Linked DNA regions of Homo sapiens. The protein of the gene in region 2 purifies or fractionates together with the protein of the main gene of each other region. This does not show direct contact. Each region holds a gene or a part of one and is shown on either strand. Other genes may lie near its edges. The genes, in order: GLOD4, ARHGEF5, CCDC86 and LMNB2.

Region 1 (3,565 bases), on a different chromosome or scaffold from region 2:
TCTCTCTCACATCCTCTCCAGATTTCTTCTAAAAATCTGAGTGCGCGCTGTTTCTCTCTCTCACGTCCTCTCCAGATTTCTTCCTCTAAAAATCTGAGTGCGCGCTGTTTCTCCCTCTCACGTCCTCTCCAGATTTCTTCTTCTAAAAATCTGAGTGCGCGCTGTTTCTCTCTCTCACGTCCTCTCCAGACTTCTTCTTCTAAAAATCTGAGTGCGCGCTGTTTCTCTCTCTCACGTCCTCTCCAGATTTCTTCTAAAAATCTGAGTGCGCGCTGTTTCTCTCTCTCACGTCCTCTCCAGATTTCTTCTAAAAATCTGAGTGCGCGCTGTTTCTCCCTCTTATGTCCTCTCCAGATTTCTTCTAAAAATCTGAGCGCGCGCTGTTTCTCTCTCTTACGTCCTCTCCAGATTTCTTCTTCTAAAAATCTGAGTGCGCGCTGTTTCTCTCTCTCACGTCCTCTTCAGATTTCTTCTTCTAAAAATCTGAGTGCGCCCTGTTTCTCTCTCTCACATCCTCTCCAGATTTCTTCTAAAAATCTGAGTGCGCGCTGTTTCTCTCTCACACATCCTCTCCAGATTTCTTCTTCTAAAAATCTGAGTGTGCGCCGTTTCTCTCTCTCACGTCCTCTCCAGATTTCTTCTAAAAATCTGAGTGCACGCTGTTTCTCTCTCACACATCCTCTCCAGATTTCTTCTTCTAAAAATCTGAGTGCGCGCTGTTTCTCTCTCTCACGTCCTCTCCAGATTTCTTCTTCTAAAAATCTGAGTGCGCGCTGTTTCTCTCTCTCACGTCCTCTCCAGATTTCTTCTAAAAATCTGAGTGCGCGCTGTTTCTCTCTCTTACGTCCTCTCCAGATTTTTTCTAAAAATCTGAGTGCGCGCTGTTTCTCTCTCTTACGTCCTCTCCAGATTTCTTCTTCTAAAAATCTGAGTGCGCGCTGTTTCTCTCTCACATACTCTCCAGATTTCTTCTAAAAATCTGAGTGCGCGCTGTTTCTCTCTCTCACATCCTCTCCAGATTTCTTCTAAAAATCTGAGTGCGCGCTGTTTCCCTCTCTTACGTCCTCTCCAGATTTCTTCTTCTAAAAATCTGAATGCGCGCTGTTTCTCTCTCTCACGTCCTCTCCAGATTTCTTCTTCTAAAAATCTGAGTGCGTGCTGTTTCTCTCTCTCACGTCCTCTCTAGATTTCTTCTTCTAAAAATCTGAGTGTGCGCTGTTTCTCTCTCTTACGTCCTCTCCAGATTTCTTCTCTAAAAATCTGAGTGCGCGCTGTTTCTCCCTCTTACGTCCTCTCCAGATTTCTTCTTCTAAAAATCTGAGTGTGCACTGTTTCTCTTTCTCGCCTCCCATTTTCACTTCAGTCTGTTTTGCACTGGCTCTTGTTACTCAGTGAAGTGCTTTTGTTTCTTGCCAAATATAGCAACTACTTTTAGATTCTCATCAAACTCAGTAATTCAGAAGCATTCAAAGTAGTTGTTGGATCCTAGCTCCTAGCACATACCTGGCATGTACTAGACGTTCTGCAAATACTTTGTTGAATGATTAAAGGAACAAATTGGTCTTTCTTGGTTCTGTCACGTAACTCTGTGACTGACCTTAAACAGTTGACTTAAATTCTTTGAACTTTAGTCTTCTTATCCAAAAATTTCAGAAAATAAGAGGATCTATCTCATAAGATTGTTATGGTTTATAGAGCTTGGCAAATTACTGACATAATAGTAGATGCACAATTAACGTTAAAGCAGGCAATGTATAGAAAATACAGTCTTTATACATTTTATCCTGAAGGAAAGTAGAATCTGTCATCCTCTCAGCTGACAAATTTGCCAGACTCTTCCTCCTCGCTCTTAATTTAATTAAATTAATTACTGAATTAAATTTTTTGAGATGGAGTCTAGCTCTGTCGCCCAGGGTGGAGTGCAATGGTGCAATCTTGCCTCACTGCAACCTTCGCCTCCCAGGGTCAAGCGATTCTTCTGCCTCGGCCTCCCAAGGAGCTGGAACTACAGGCACTTGCCACCATGCTGGCTAATTTTTGTATTTTTAGTAGAGACAGGGTTTTGCCAGGTTGGCCAGGCTGGTCTCAAACTCCTAGCCTCAAGTGATCTACCCACCTCATCCTCCTAAAGTGCTGGGATTACAGGTGTGAGCCACTGTGCCTGGCCCATTTTATTTTATTTATTTTTTGAGACGGATTCTTGCTCTGTCAACTAGGCTGGAGTGCAGTGGCATAATCTTGGCTCACTGCAACCTCCACCTCCCGGGATCAAGCGATTCTCCTGCCTCAGCCTCCCAAGTAGCTGGGATTACAGGCACGTGCCACCACGCCTGGCTAATTTTTGTATTTTTAGTAGAGACGGGGCTTCACCATGTTGGCCAGGATGGTCTTGAACTCCTAACTTCAGGCGATCCGTCTGCCTTGGCCTCCCAAAGTGCTGGGATTACAGGCGTGAGCCACCACGCCTGGGCCCATTTTTTTTTTTTTAAGACGGGGTCTCTCTCTGTCACCGAGGCTGGAGTGCAGTGGCATGATCTCAGCTCACTGCAACCTCCGCCTCCTATGTTCCAGTGATCCTCCCACCTCAGCCTCCCTAGTAGCTGGAACCATAGGCGTGCGCCACCATGCCTGGCTAATTTTTGTATTTTTTCTAGAGATGGGGTTTCACCATGTTGCCCAGGCTGGTTTCAAACTTCCTGGGCTCAATCATTCGATCCATCTTGGCCTCCCAAAGTGCTGGGATTATAGATGTGAACCATTGATGAACTCCTGCTCCCTGAGCTCTCTTCTCCTCTGCTGTTAGCGATCCTGCCATTTTTCTTTTTTTTGAGTTGGGAGTCTCACTCTCTTGCCCAGGCTGGAGTGCAGTGGCGCGATCTCAGGTCACTGCAACCTCTGCCTCCCAGGTTCAAGCAGTTCTCTTGCCTCAGCCTCCTGAGTAGCTGGTAGCTGGGATTACAGGCACGCACCACCACACCTGGCTAATTTTTGTATTTTTAGTAGAGATGGGGTTTCACCATGTTGGTCAGGCTGGTTGAGTAGGCCGGGTGCGGTGGCTCACACCTGTAACCCCAGCCCTTTGGGAGGCCGAGGCGGGCGGATCACAAGGTCAGGAGATCGAGACCATCCTGGCTAACACGGTGAAACCCTGTCTCTTGAACTCCTGACCTCAGGTGATCCACCCTCCTCGGCCTCCCAAAGGGCTGGGATTATAGGCGTGAGCCACTGCGCCTGGCCATCCTACCATTTTCATCTTCCTGACAGTTTCTCCTCAGACACGGGCACCTCTTTCTGTGTCTCATCCCAAAGTGTTTTTATACCCATAGCCCTACTTTGCTGTTTTTCCCATTCTGCATTCTTCCTCCACTCTGATGAGAGCTTACCTGCGACCTCTCCTTACCTCTGCCCTGAACGTAACCATCATCCTGGCTCCAGCCTCCTCACTTCCAGTTTTTAACTCCTTCCTCAGCTCAGACAGGTGGTTGTTGTTGATGAGGCATAATTTAGGTAGAATTTAAATGTGTTTTGACGGTTGTGTTTACTCATACAACCACTACTCAGAATA
Region 2 (4,208 bases):
GTAAAGGATTCCTACTTTGTGTGTGTCTGTGTGTGCACACAGGCACACTCGAGAGACTTTTGGCATTCTTTGAAGTCACTGGAGGGGCACAGAGATAAACCCACTCAGCCTTGGCCTCCAAGACTAACAGAACACAACGTTTCCCTGAAAGAATAAAAAAAAAAATACAGGCATAAGAAAACACACAAACATGGGCTTAGAGATTTAAATACACACACACACACACACACACACACACACACACAGGCCCTAGAAGGAACATACACCCTGAGATACGCACTCATTCTAAAATAAACTCGGGAATACAGAAGGACACGGGCATGTCCTTTCAGAGAGGCACACTTCTAGGCCCTAAGTAGGAGAAGGAAGAGGGGAGAGGAAGAGGCAGGGAGAGGGACAGGGAGGGGGGAGGAGGGAGGGAGAGAGAGAGAGAAACGAAGAAGGGGGCGGAGGAGGAGATGGAGGAGACACTCTTTATTCTATAGGAGGAGACATCACGGAAGAGAAATCAACACTGAGGCCTTGGCCGGGCGCGGTGGCTCACGCCTGTAATCCCAGCACTTTGGGAGGCCGAGGCGGGTGCATCACCTGAGGTCAGGAGTTTCCAGACCAGCCTGGCCAACATGGCGAAACCCGGCCTCTACTAAAAAATACAAAAATTAGCCGGGCATGGTGGCGCGGACCTGTAATCCCAGCTACTCGGGAGGCTGAGGCAGGAGAATCTCTTGAACCCGGAGACGGAGGTTGCAGTGAGCCGAGATCGCGCCATTGCACTCCAGCCTGGGCAACAGGGCGAGACTCCGTCTCAGAAACAACAACAACAACAACAACAACAACAACATCAACAACAACAACAACAACAACGAACAAACCAAAAACCAATGAGGCCTGAAGATAAAGACACATGTACAACCACGGATGTCAGACTTCCAGAGGCACGGCCAAGGCAAAAGACAAACACATACAGACTGCAGCAGGCAGACAGGCCGGTTCCAGAGTCAGGCTCCGGTGAAGCTCCGAAGAAACAAACACGCAGGGAGATTTCGGAGGCGTCCGAGGACACCGTGGGGCCCGGCTGGCTCCCTCTGTCTCTGTGCGCGCCCCTTCCCCGGGTCACCCCGCCTGCGCCCGACCTGCGCCCGCGCACCGCGCCCTCGGGGCTCCCTGGGACAGCCCGCGGCCTGGCCCGTGCGCCCGGGCTCCCCTCCCCGCCGGCCCGGCACTTCCCAGCTCTGACGCGGGAGCTTCTTTCACACCAATGGGGCTCGCGCGCGGAGGGGCCCTGCCCCTCCTCCGGGAAGGTGTGTCCCTGTTTCCTCACCTGAAACTTCCTAGGAGAACCCGATCCCTCCCTCCCGTCGGGCGGCCAGGGGCGGGCCGCGGGTGGGGCGGCCGGGCCTGCGCTGGGGACGGCTCTGGGGACTGCGGCCGGCGCCGGGACCTGGAGGGGACGCTGGGGCCGAAGCAGCATGTGACACCGACCAGGTGGGTGCCCTCCTCCCGTCTCGGCCCTGGGCTCCCGGCGGCTGTGGAGCCCGGCGGAGGTGGGGCAGGGACAGGAAGGAAGAGGAAGCCAGGCCTTTCCCAGGGATCAGCCCCCGCTGGGTCCGGGGCGCAGGCTCCGGAAATGGGGGGGCTGGGCCCGCAGGCAGGGCTCGGGGTGTGTGGCTGAGGACCCTGGTGGGGAAGAGGAGAGGAACTAGAGGAAATGTTGTTGCCTACAAGTTTGCTTCCGGTCGGGTCCCGCCTAGGAAATGGGCACCCTGCCCCCAGACGTTCCCCGGGCCAATAATCAGGGCTCTTTCTTCAAAGTAGGCGCCCTGGGGAAAGCTAAGCCATATCAGAAGGAATAACTGAGATTCCCTTTCTAGGCTGTTCCTTACCTGGAGAGGTTTTATCGGCTCCTTTTCCTTAACCAGGCCGGGGCCTTTCCTTATGTATCTCCATAGGTATTTGCATACTGTGTGAGTCTATGTGTAGCTTCTCTCCGTGTTAACCAAAGCTCCGTAACCTGGAACAGTGAATCCTGCCCTGCCCCTCACCCCAGTTCCCTACATATGGGGAGCCTCCTAAAGCTTGATGTGAATCACAACGTTGCATTCTTAGCAAGGTGGAAAGAAGTTATTTAGAGTTGGGGGCTGAGGTAGGCGTTGGGGTGCTAGAATGCGGACGCAGAGCTCTAGAACCCCTGAGCATCTTTTGCAGTTGCCTTCCGGCAAGACTACCGGAGGAGAGCCAGTTGTGATACTACGTCATTTCCAGATCTCAGTCCCTTTCTTCCCTTCCTGGATCTTGGGTTCCAAAGACAGATTTGCCCTCCTGTCTACCTAGAAGTGAACTCTGGCCAGGACTCTTGTCTGGTTGAGAGAGAAGGGTGTGTCAAACAGATGAGAGAGGGTGGTTTTCCTTTCGAGCTTCCTCCCTAGCTTGCTCCCCTACTGCACTCCACTGTCTGGCCTTGCATCTTGGGCCTAATCCAGAGGTCCCAGCTCCAGCTAAAAAGCTCTTGATGTGGCCTCTGTCTCAGACGTCTTGTTTTATCCACATTTGGAGCATGAAGAAGTTCCTGGCATAGGCCTTAGCAAAATGGGTGTCATTTGTTAACCAATCTGTGGGCCTAAAAGTGAAGCCATGGCTAGTGAAGGAGTCCTGGGGAGCTGGGAAGATGGGATGAGGGCGTGTCAGTTCTGGGTGAGACTGATATGCAGGAGGAATGTATGTCATGGTCCTAGTGGGGAGGAGAGAGAAATCAGGAGGAGTGCAAAGGAATCCCTCTCATCAACAGAATATAGTGATTCTCAATAGAGAGAAGAGTGTTCATATATTAGAGGTCCTGAGAGTGTATCAGTGCCCTTAACGCGGTCTGTCTGAGGTTCCGTGGCCACGTTACACGTGGTGTCTGTGGGATAGACAGGAATACGTCATTTGTGGTGTCTGGAGAGGTCAGTCGCTATGTGGTATGGACAGGAATGGAGTCACTCGTAGGGTCTTGGGTTCAACGGGAGCAGCATTACTCAAGTGTCAGTGGTGTAGACAAACAGGTGACCAACAGCTCTAGTGTAGACAGGGGCTGGGTCACTCACAGTGTCTGTGGAGTAAGCAGGAGCCGATCACTTATAGTGCCTGCAAGGTAGACTGGAACAAAGTCACCCTCAAGGTCTGTGTTAATACACAAACACGTCACTCACACTAATGTTATCTGTGTGTATGCCACCAGGACCACAGATGAGATTGTAGAGTGTAAGTCAGCATTGACACTAATAATGTTCTTATATAAACTATCTGGTCTATAAGGCAGTTGGTGTGACATTTTCAGACATTAGAGAATAGATAAATGTGTATTACAGCTTTCACTGGCATGGTGGGACTTTCCTGCAATGGATAGAACACACACTGTAGTAGTCAGTGGTCCAGAAAGCTACCCCTGTTTTGATATCTTTGTAGTATTGAGGGCAGTGATGTCAAACAGTGAATAAAGTTATATATCTATGTGGTGATCTTATTTTAACCTCAATATTATTTTAGTGATTTGTAAGTCAGAATATTTGAAATCAACCTTGCTAGAAAATCCAGGAAGCATGGTCCTCAAAAATATATATATGGCACTGAGTCTCAGTTCAAAGATTTGGCAGTTTGATTGGGGAGGGGTTGTATCCTTGAAATACAGTGTTGTTTCTAGTGACTAGAAATAGACAAGAGCTAAGGTGTTGGGGGGGGCTCTAGGGAAGATAGTGAGCTCTGTCACACATTATGTTAAAGGGATGACTTGAAGCTTTGCCTCTCAAGAAGTCACACGTGGGTGAGGTTATGTGGATGCAGAATGTCTGTGGTCTGAAGCAAGGCCGTATCCCCATAATCCCATGCCCTGGCTTTGCCTGTACACAGATAAACAGTGATTATTCACCCTCAGTGGAGAAGGAGATGAGGATGTTTGCACTCTAACGTAATGAGCATTGCAAAAAACTCTCTCCTGATGCCTTTACGTGAGTAAGACCATGATTTACAGATTTCCTTTCACTTTGTCACATTTTAGCTTTGTCATGCCTGATTGCAACGGGATCACTGAGATAGGATCAAGTATAGGGAACGTGGGGTATGTTCTCCCTTTGCGGTAACTGGTGGCTGAGCAGGTGACCACTGATATTTCCAAATGAAAAAAGACAGTTAGAAACGGTGTCAATGGGCTTGCAGAGGCAGGCATGCACTGT
Region 3 (3,299 bases), on a different chromosome or scaffold from region 2:
GAGATCTGGGGAAACAGTATCCAGGCAACAGGAAAGGGATGTTCAGAGGTATTGAGGCGGGAGCAAGCTCCCGTTTGAGAGGCTTTCCAGAGGTCTCGCTGCTGGAATGAGGGGGAGAAGGGGAACAGTAGGAGATGAGGTCAGAGAGACAGCAGGACCTGGTGACCCTTACAGGGACTCCCGGCTTTCCTGAGTGAGCTTGGGAGCCATGGAAGGGTGTCAAGCAAAGGAATGAAATGACCTGACTTGTGAGATCAGCCTGGCTACTGAACACAGACATAGGCGGGCAGGGGTGAAGGCAGGAAAACCCACAAGGAGGCTGTCTCAAGAGAACTAAAACAGCTTCCGAAGCTGCAGGCAAGTCTGTGGCGAGGGGCCCAGCAGGGCCACTGAATGGATGTTTGGGATCTTTGAGGGAGCAGCTTCGGTGGGTAGTAAGTGAGCCTGGAGATGGGTGGGAAGCAGCTCCTGCTGCAGGGAGGAAGACAGCCGCAGCTGGGAAAGTGTATGTGGTGAGGGAGACCTGGCTGCAGCCCTGTCTTCGTGCTCATGCCAAACGCCACTTTCTCCATAGTGCCCTTGGGCATGCTGTCTGCCTTCTCTGAGGAGTAGCATTTATGGAGCACCTATTACGTGTGTGTGTCGATTAAATCTCCCACCACCCTTTGGGTTAGGAATGATTCTCATCTCCACTGGACAGGATGCTGAGACTTAGAGAGGCTACCTTGCTCCAGGTCACCCAGGTTGGACTTGGAACCCAGGCCTGAGTTTCCTCAATACCCAGGTAGAACCAATGGTCTGGAACTGCCCTGCCTCAGTACCTTAGCCGCCAGCCACATGTGGCTATGTACATTTAAATTAATTAAAATTAAATAAAATTTAAGATTCAGTTTCTCTATCAACACCAACCACATTTCTAGCGCTCAGCAGCCACCCATGACTAGTGGCTACCTTATTGGACAGTGTCAATGTGGAATGTTTCCACCATCACAGAACGTTCTGTTTGACAGCCCTGCTCTACACAGATGCAGCACTGTGTCTTGTGGTTCTGTGTGTCTCTAGGCTCCCAACACCTTGTCCCTTCAGGGTTCTCGTACCCCAGCTTGGGAAGCCCAGCTTTACAGTTATGGGGGAAGTCCATGTGGCACCCCATTCTTAGTGCTTAGGAGGCCAGGCCTTCAGTGGCAAGGCCTTGGGAAGGGGAGAAGGAAATCAGGGAGCTGGGGCCAGAAGTCGGCAGGGCCAAGGGACACCAAAATGGGCCTTGAATCTTTAAAAGAGAAAGACCTAATTTCAGCATGTGGAGGCCACCGAGAGACTTCTTTGCATTTTGTTTTTACTTTTTTTGAATGGAAATTTTCAAGCATACAAAGAAAGAGCAAAGCTCTCAAGTCCCCATTATCAGCATCAACACAGCTCAGCATTTTACTAGTGTAGCTTCATCTTTGATACTTGGCTTTTTTTTCTTTTTTTCTTTTTTTTTGTTTTGAGACGGAGTTTCATTCTTGTTGCCCAGGCCAGAGTGCAATGGAGCAATCTCGGCTCACCGCAACCTCCGCCTCCTGGGTTCAAGCGATTCTCCTGCCTCAGCCTCCCAAGTAGCTGGGATTACAGGTGTGTGCCACCACACCCAGCTAATTTTGTATTTTTAGTAGAGACAGGGTTTCTCCATGTTGGTCAAGCTGGTCTCGAACTCCCGACCTTAGGTGATCGGCCCACCTCAGCCTCCCAAAGTGCTGGGATTACAGGCGTGAGCCACTGCGCCCGGCTGATCTTTGGCATTTTTTTTTCCCTGAAATATTTTAAAGTACATCCTAGACATATCATCCCATTCATAAATCCTTGTAGTATGCATTTTTACAGAGATGAGCTCAGTTCTCCTGTAACTCTAAAATCATCGTTGCTCTTTTCAGATTTCCCTGAGAGCCCTGATGCCCACTTCATCTCCAACTGGGGGAAGAGATTCTTTTTCTTTTTTCTTTTTTCTTTTTTTTTTTTGAGACAGAGTCTTGCTCTGTCACCCAGGCTGGAGTGCAGTGGCGCGATCTCGGCTCACTGCAACCTCCACCTCCCAGGTTCAAGCAATTGTTGTACCTCAGCCTCCCAAGTAGCTGGGACTATAGGCATACACCATCACACCCAGCTAATTTTTGTATTTTTAGTAGAAACTTTAGTAGGTTTTAGTAGGCTTAGTAGGTTTTGCCATGTTTGCCCGGCTGGTCTCCAACTCCTGGACTCACGTGGTCTGCCCACCTTGGCCTCCCAAAGTGCTGGGATTACAAGCATGACCACTGCATCCGGTCTTGGCGGGGAAGATCCTGAATCATTACCCAGAACTTTAACCACTCACACTGTTCTGAAATGGAATGGGCCACCTCCCTAGGGGGTGAGCGCCCCGCCTCCAGAGGCATTCACACCCGGGCCAAATGCACTTGGCGGAAGCAACAGAACTTTACAGCAGGGGCCGCGTAGCCTGGACTCTGCAGTCGCTGACAGGATTCAAGTCCTGACTGCCACAAGGTATCTTTAGGCAGCTATTTAACCTCTCCGCGCCTTGGCCTGCTCCTCTGTAAGTGGAGAGGATAGGAGTACCCACCTCAGAGGCATGTAGCCAAGGCTTGAGAAATGGCAGCCAGCACGATCAGGGTTCCCTCCCGCCCCAAGTTTCTGCAGCCCTGGAAGGCCGCCTGTCAGGCCAGCAAGGAGGTGGTTCTGCCTGGGCTCTGGGGAAGAAGGTCCAGAGCCTCCGGCCGAGAGGAGACAGGGCATGGGTGGCGCTTGCCCCACAGACCCTGTATGCACCCACTCTCCCCCTTTCAGATTCTCCCAGATGCTTCAGGACAAGCCCCTGCGCACATCGTGGCAGCGGAAGATGAAGGAACGACAGGAGAGGAAGCTGGCCAAGGACTTTGCCCGTCACCTGGAGGAGGAGAAGGAGAGGCGCCGCCAGGTGAGGGGCCAGCCAGGCTGAGGCTGGGGCTCAGAGGACTAAGCTAGTGTCTACTGGTACAGACCTGAGGCGAGGGCCTCCACGGGTGCCTGGGGGAGGCCGACTTGGTTAAAAAACGTTCTTGAATCTGAAGGCCGGAGGGAGGAAGGGCACCTGGCCAGAAGCAGAAGTGCAATCTGGGACTACAGGGCAGGGAGGCCCAGGGGACCATACAGTTTAGCCTGGGCTGCTGAAAGAGCCTCAGGGACAGGGACGGAGGGGGAGGACCAGAAGCGGGCCTTGGGGAGAAGCCCGGGAGGAAGTCCTGGGTGGTAGGGCAGTCAGTGAGATGGGGTCGAGGGCCCTTTGC
Region 4 (3,565 bases), on a different chromosome or scaffold from region 2:
GGGTTTCACTGTGTTAGCCAGGATGGTCTCGATCTCCTGACCTTGTGATCCGCCCGCCTCGGCTTCCCAAAGTGCTGGGATTACAGGTGTGAGCCACTGCGCCCGGCACCATGTGTAGTTTTCAAACATGCATGGATGTGAATTTCATGTCTTCTGGGTCCACACCCAGGAGTGGAGTTACCGGGTCACAGGGTGGCTCTGTGACTCTTGGGGGAGCCCCTGGACTGTTTTCTGTAGAGCTGTCTCAGCTCAGGTTCCTGCCGCTGCCTGTGAGGTTCCGATTTCTCTGCGTACTCGCCCGCACCTGCGACTGTCTGTCTTCTTGACGGACGCCCTGGCTGGTGCGAAGTGGCATCTCACTGCGGTTTGCTTCCACATATTTTTAAACTCACTGAGTGCATGGCCCTGTGGGAGGAGGGGAGGCAGGAAGGCCACTAGAAGCCTGAGCTGTGCCCCCAGCTGGCGCGTGCAGAGGCCGGGCAGGTGGCGGCTGTGGTTGCAGCAGGATTAGTAGGAAGTGAAGAGGTCGCCTTCCCTGGCACCGCATGTGCCTCGAGTTCACCTGGAGGCCCTCGAGAGGGGCGGGTTTGGGGGCTTTGCGCGGGGCTTAGGGAGGGGCTTTCTTTAGCTGGGCGGCCCAGAGGGTGTTCCAGTCGCTTCTGCCTGCCCTGGTGACCCCTGGCTCTCCAGCCCCTCCCCATGTCCTTGCTGGCTGGGCTGGGTCTCCGTCGGGAAAGGTGGGGGCCGCTGGTGGGGTGGGGAGCTGGAGACTCTGACTACAGATCCCTGTGATCGAGGGGTGAAAGGTGGGGGTGACTGGTGGGGGGGGCAGCTGGGGACTGACTACAGATCCCTGTGATCGAGGGGTGAAAGGTGGGGGCGGCTGGTGGGGTGGGGAGTTGGGGACTCTGACTACAGATCCCTGTGATTGAGGGGTGAAAGGTGGGGGCAGCTGGTGGGGTGGGGAGTTGGGGACTCTGACTACAGATCCCTGTGATCGACGGGTGAAAGGTGGGGGCGGCTGGTTGGGGGGGGCAGCTGGGGACTGACTACAGATCCCTGTGATCGAGGGGTGAAAGGTGGGGGCGGCTGGTGGGGTGGGGAGTTGGGGACTCTGACTACAGATCGCTGTGATCGAGGGGTGAAAGGTGGGGGCCGCTGGTGGGGTGGGGAGCTGGGGACTCTGACTGCAGATCCCTGTGATCGAGGGGTGAAACGTGGGGGCCGCTGGTGGGGTGGGGAGCTGGGGACTCTGACTGCAGATCCCTGTGATCGAGGGGTGAAAGGTGGGGGCCGCTGGTGGGGTAGGGAGCTGGGGACTCTGACTGCAGATCCCTGTGATCGAGGGGTGAAAGGTGGGGGCCGCTGGTGGGGTGGGGAGTTGGGGACTCTGACTACAGATCCCTGTGATCGAGGGGTGAAAGGTGGGGGCCGCTGGTGGGGTGGGGAGCTGGGGACTCTGACTGCAGATCTCTGTGATTGAGGGGTGGGAGCTTCTGTCCTGGAGCCTCCGAGCCACCACATTGGCAGCTGGCCTGTCGGGGGGACACAGCATGGGAAGGCCAGATGCTCCTCCCTCCATCCCAGGGAACAGCCCAGCCTGAGCCTGGGCCATGTGCCTGCGTGTGAGGTAGGGGCACAGAGGGGCACGGGCTGGCCCCCGGTTGGCAGAAGTGGGGGATCTTGGGCTCAGCGGGGTCTGGGGGAGCGGGGGCTCCAGGTTGCAGAGGCCTGGGGGGAGTCTCAGGGGCCCAGAGGGGTCTGGGAGGGGACTCCAGGTTGCAAAGGCTGGTGGGGGCAGGGGGCTCTCAGGCCCAGTGGGGTCTGGGAGGGCCCCGGGTTGCTGTCATCACCAGTTGTCCGAGAGTGATCAGCCCAGTGTCCATGGTGCCCAGCGGGAGAGATCCTTGATTAAACATCCCACCAGTTTTCTGGTTCTGAAACCGAGAGTGTGAAAAATGCATCTAATGGCCAGGCATCGTGTCGCTATGACAGCGGCCAAGGGGCTGCATGTCCAGGTGTGGCTGGTCCTCCGGGGAAGGGGACAGGCTCCATCCAGCTGCTGTGCTGGTCCAGGCCCAGGGCCTTTGGTCTCCAGCACTGGGCGCCGCTGTTCTGGGAGCTGGAGCTCGTGGAGAGACGATCATTCCAGAGGGGGCCGCAGCAGAGGAGGAGGCTCCTGGGATGGCTGGGACCCAGGGTCGCCTGGCTTCCTCCTGGTTACCGGACCCTCCCCGACAGGGGGCTCCCTTTGCTGTGTCTGTGAGATGGGCAACACAGGGTGTCCCAGTGTCCCCAGGCTGCCATCCTCTCTCTCTGCGTGCCAGTCCCTGGGAATCTGAGCAGGGCCAGTGGCCGGGCCCCCTGACTGCTGTAGTCCAAGGGGAAGGGTCCCTCTCGCTTCACCCTGTCCTGGGTCTCCCCAGGTGAGTGGCATCAAGGCGCTGTACGAGTCGGAGCTGGCCGATGCCCGGAGAGTCCTGGATGAGACGGCTCGAGAGCGTGCCCGGCTGCAGATAGAGATTGGGAAGCTGAGGGCAGAGTTGGACGAGGTCAACAAGAGGTGAGTGGTCACGGCTGGGCACGACGTCACCCTGATCCTGGCACCACGGGGTGGACGGGGGCAGGTGGGCGCTGGGCTCGTGCGGGGCATGCTCTGATACGGGCACAGCCTGGAGCTCACAGCTCCCATCCTCTCTCCCCCACCAGTGGCTGCCACGTCACTTTTTCTGTTCTGAGGAAAGTGATAGATGCTCACATCGGACAGCAGGAAGCGCAGGGCAGCTTAAGCTCACAAGTAAAATCTCCCGCGAGCCTCCCCAGAGAGGGCTTCCTGGTCAGCCTGGCCTGTCTCCTTAGTGTGCACACGCGCTTGCACATGCTTACCTAGACCCCGGGCGGCACCCAGTGGACACCGTGAGACGCGTTTGACCTCAGGCCCCATCGTAGGCATTTCCCTGTGGTTGGATGTTCTTGGTGCCGGGGTTTTGTCCCAGCTGTTGGGACGCTCGGGTGTGTGGTGTGTGACCAGGGTGCTCATGGGTTGTTGGGCTGCCCCAGGGTTGGCTGCAAAGTCCTTCTGGGTGACAACTGTGTCCATCGGCAGAAACGATCTCCCCTCTCAGCCTGGCAGTGAGTCTTGCCTGATTCTGGGCGTGGGATGTGGTTGGGCGGCAATTTAAACAGAACGATGATGACAAAAGGAATATTTATTCAGAGGAGCCAGGAGGCCAATGAAACACTGAGCTCAAGGCTTTTCTTGATGTGAGGCTCCAGCTAGAGCGAGGTCTCTGGTGCCCTGCGTGTGGACACTGTCTTCCGTGGTCTCCGGCCACCGGCATTCAGGCACCTGCAGGTGCCTCGGATTTCCTCAGGCTGGGGTGGGTCAGGGTCTTCCCACACTGCTCATTCTCCCAGAGCCACGCAGGCCTGGCTCAGCATGGAGGGATCTGCTGGCAGGAGGGGTGGCACCTCGGCCACCTGGTACGGGGGTGACAGCAGCCAGTGGCTTGAGAATCCACGTTGTCCCTGAGTTGGAGTGTGGCCAGAGGAATGACCGGGGACC

The links.
Region 1: the proteins of ARHGEF5 (region 2) and GLOD4 purify together in Homo sapiens (affinity purification with mass spectrometry, with the first as the bait; one large-scale study listed by BioGRID). This does not show direct contact.
Region 3: the proteins of ARHGEF5 (region 2) and CCDC86 purify together in Homo sapiens (affinity purification with mass spectrometry, with the first as the bait; one large-scale study listed by BioGRID). This does not show direct contact.
Region 4: the proteins of ARHGEF5 (region 2) and LMNB2 purify together in Homo sapiens (affinity purification with mass spectrometry, with the first as the bait; one large-scale study listed by BioGRID). This does not show direct contact.

The regions. Positions count from the first base shown.
Region 1 is NC_000017.11:765,220-768,784, reverse strand, and holds part of GLOD4 (glyoxalase domain-containing protein 4), read left to right. Parts: intron 1-3,565.
Region 2 is NC_000007.14:144,354,017-144,358,224, forward strand, and holds the start of ARHGEF5 (rho guanine nucleotide exchange factor 5), read left to right. Parts: upstream 1-1,385; 5' UTR 1,386-1,485; exon of another isoform or gene 1,486-1,702; intron 1,703-4,208. UniProt on the Homo sapiens protein: Guanine nucleotide exchange factor which activates Rho GTPases. Strongly activates RHOA. Also strongly activates RHOB, weakly activates RHOC and RHOG and shows no effect on RHOD, RHOV, RHOQ or RAC1.
Region 3 is NC_000011.10:60,845,104-60,848,402, forward strand, and holds part of CCDC86 (coiled-coil domain-containing protein 86), read left to right. Parts: intron 1-2,820; coding exon 2,821-2,950; intron 2,951-3,299.
Region 4 is NC_000019.10:2,443,402-2,446,966, reverse strand, and holds part of LMNB2 (lamin-B2), read left to right. Parts: intron 1-2,426; coding exon 2,427-2,563; intron 2,564-3,565. UniProt on the Homo sapiens protein: Lamins are intermediate filament proteins that assemble into a filamentous meshwork, and which constitute the major components of the nuclear lamina, a fibrous layer on the nucleoplasmic side of the inner nuclear membrane.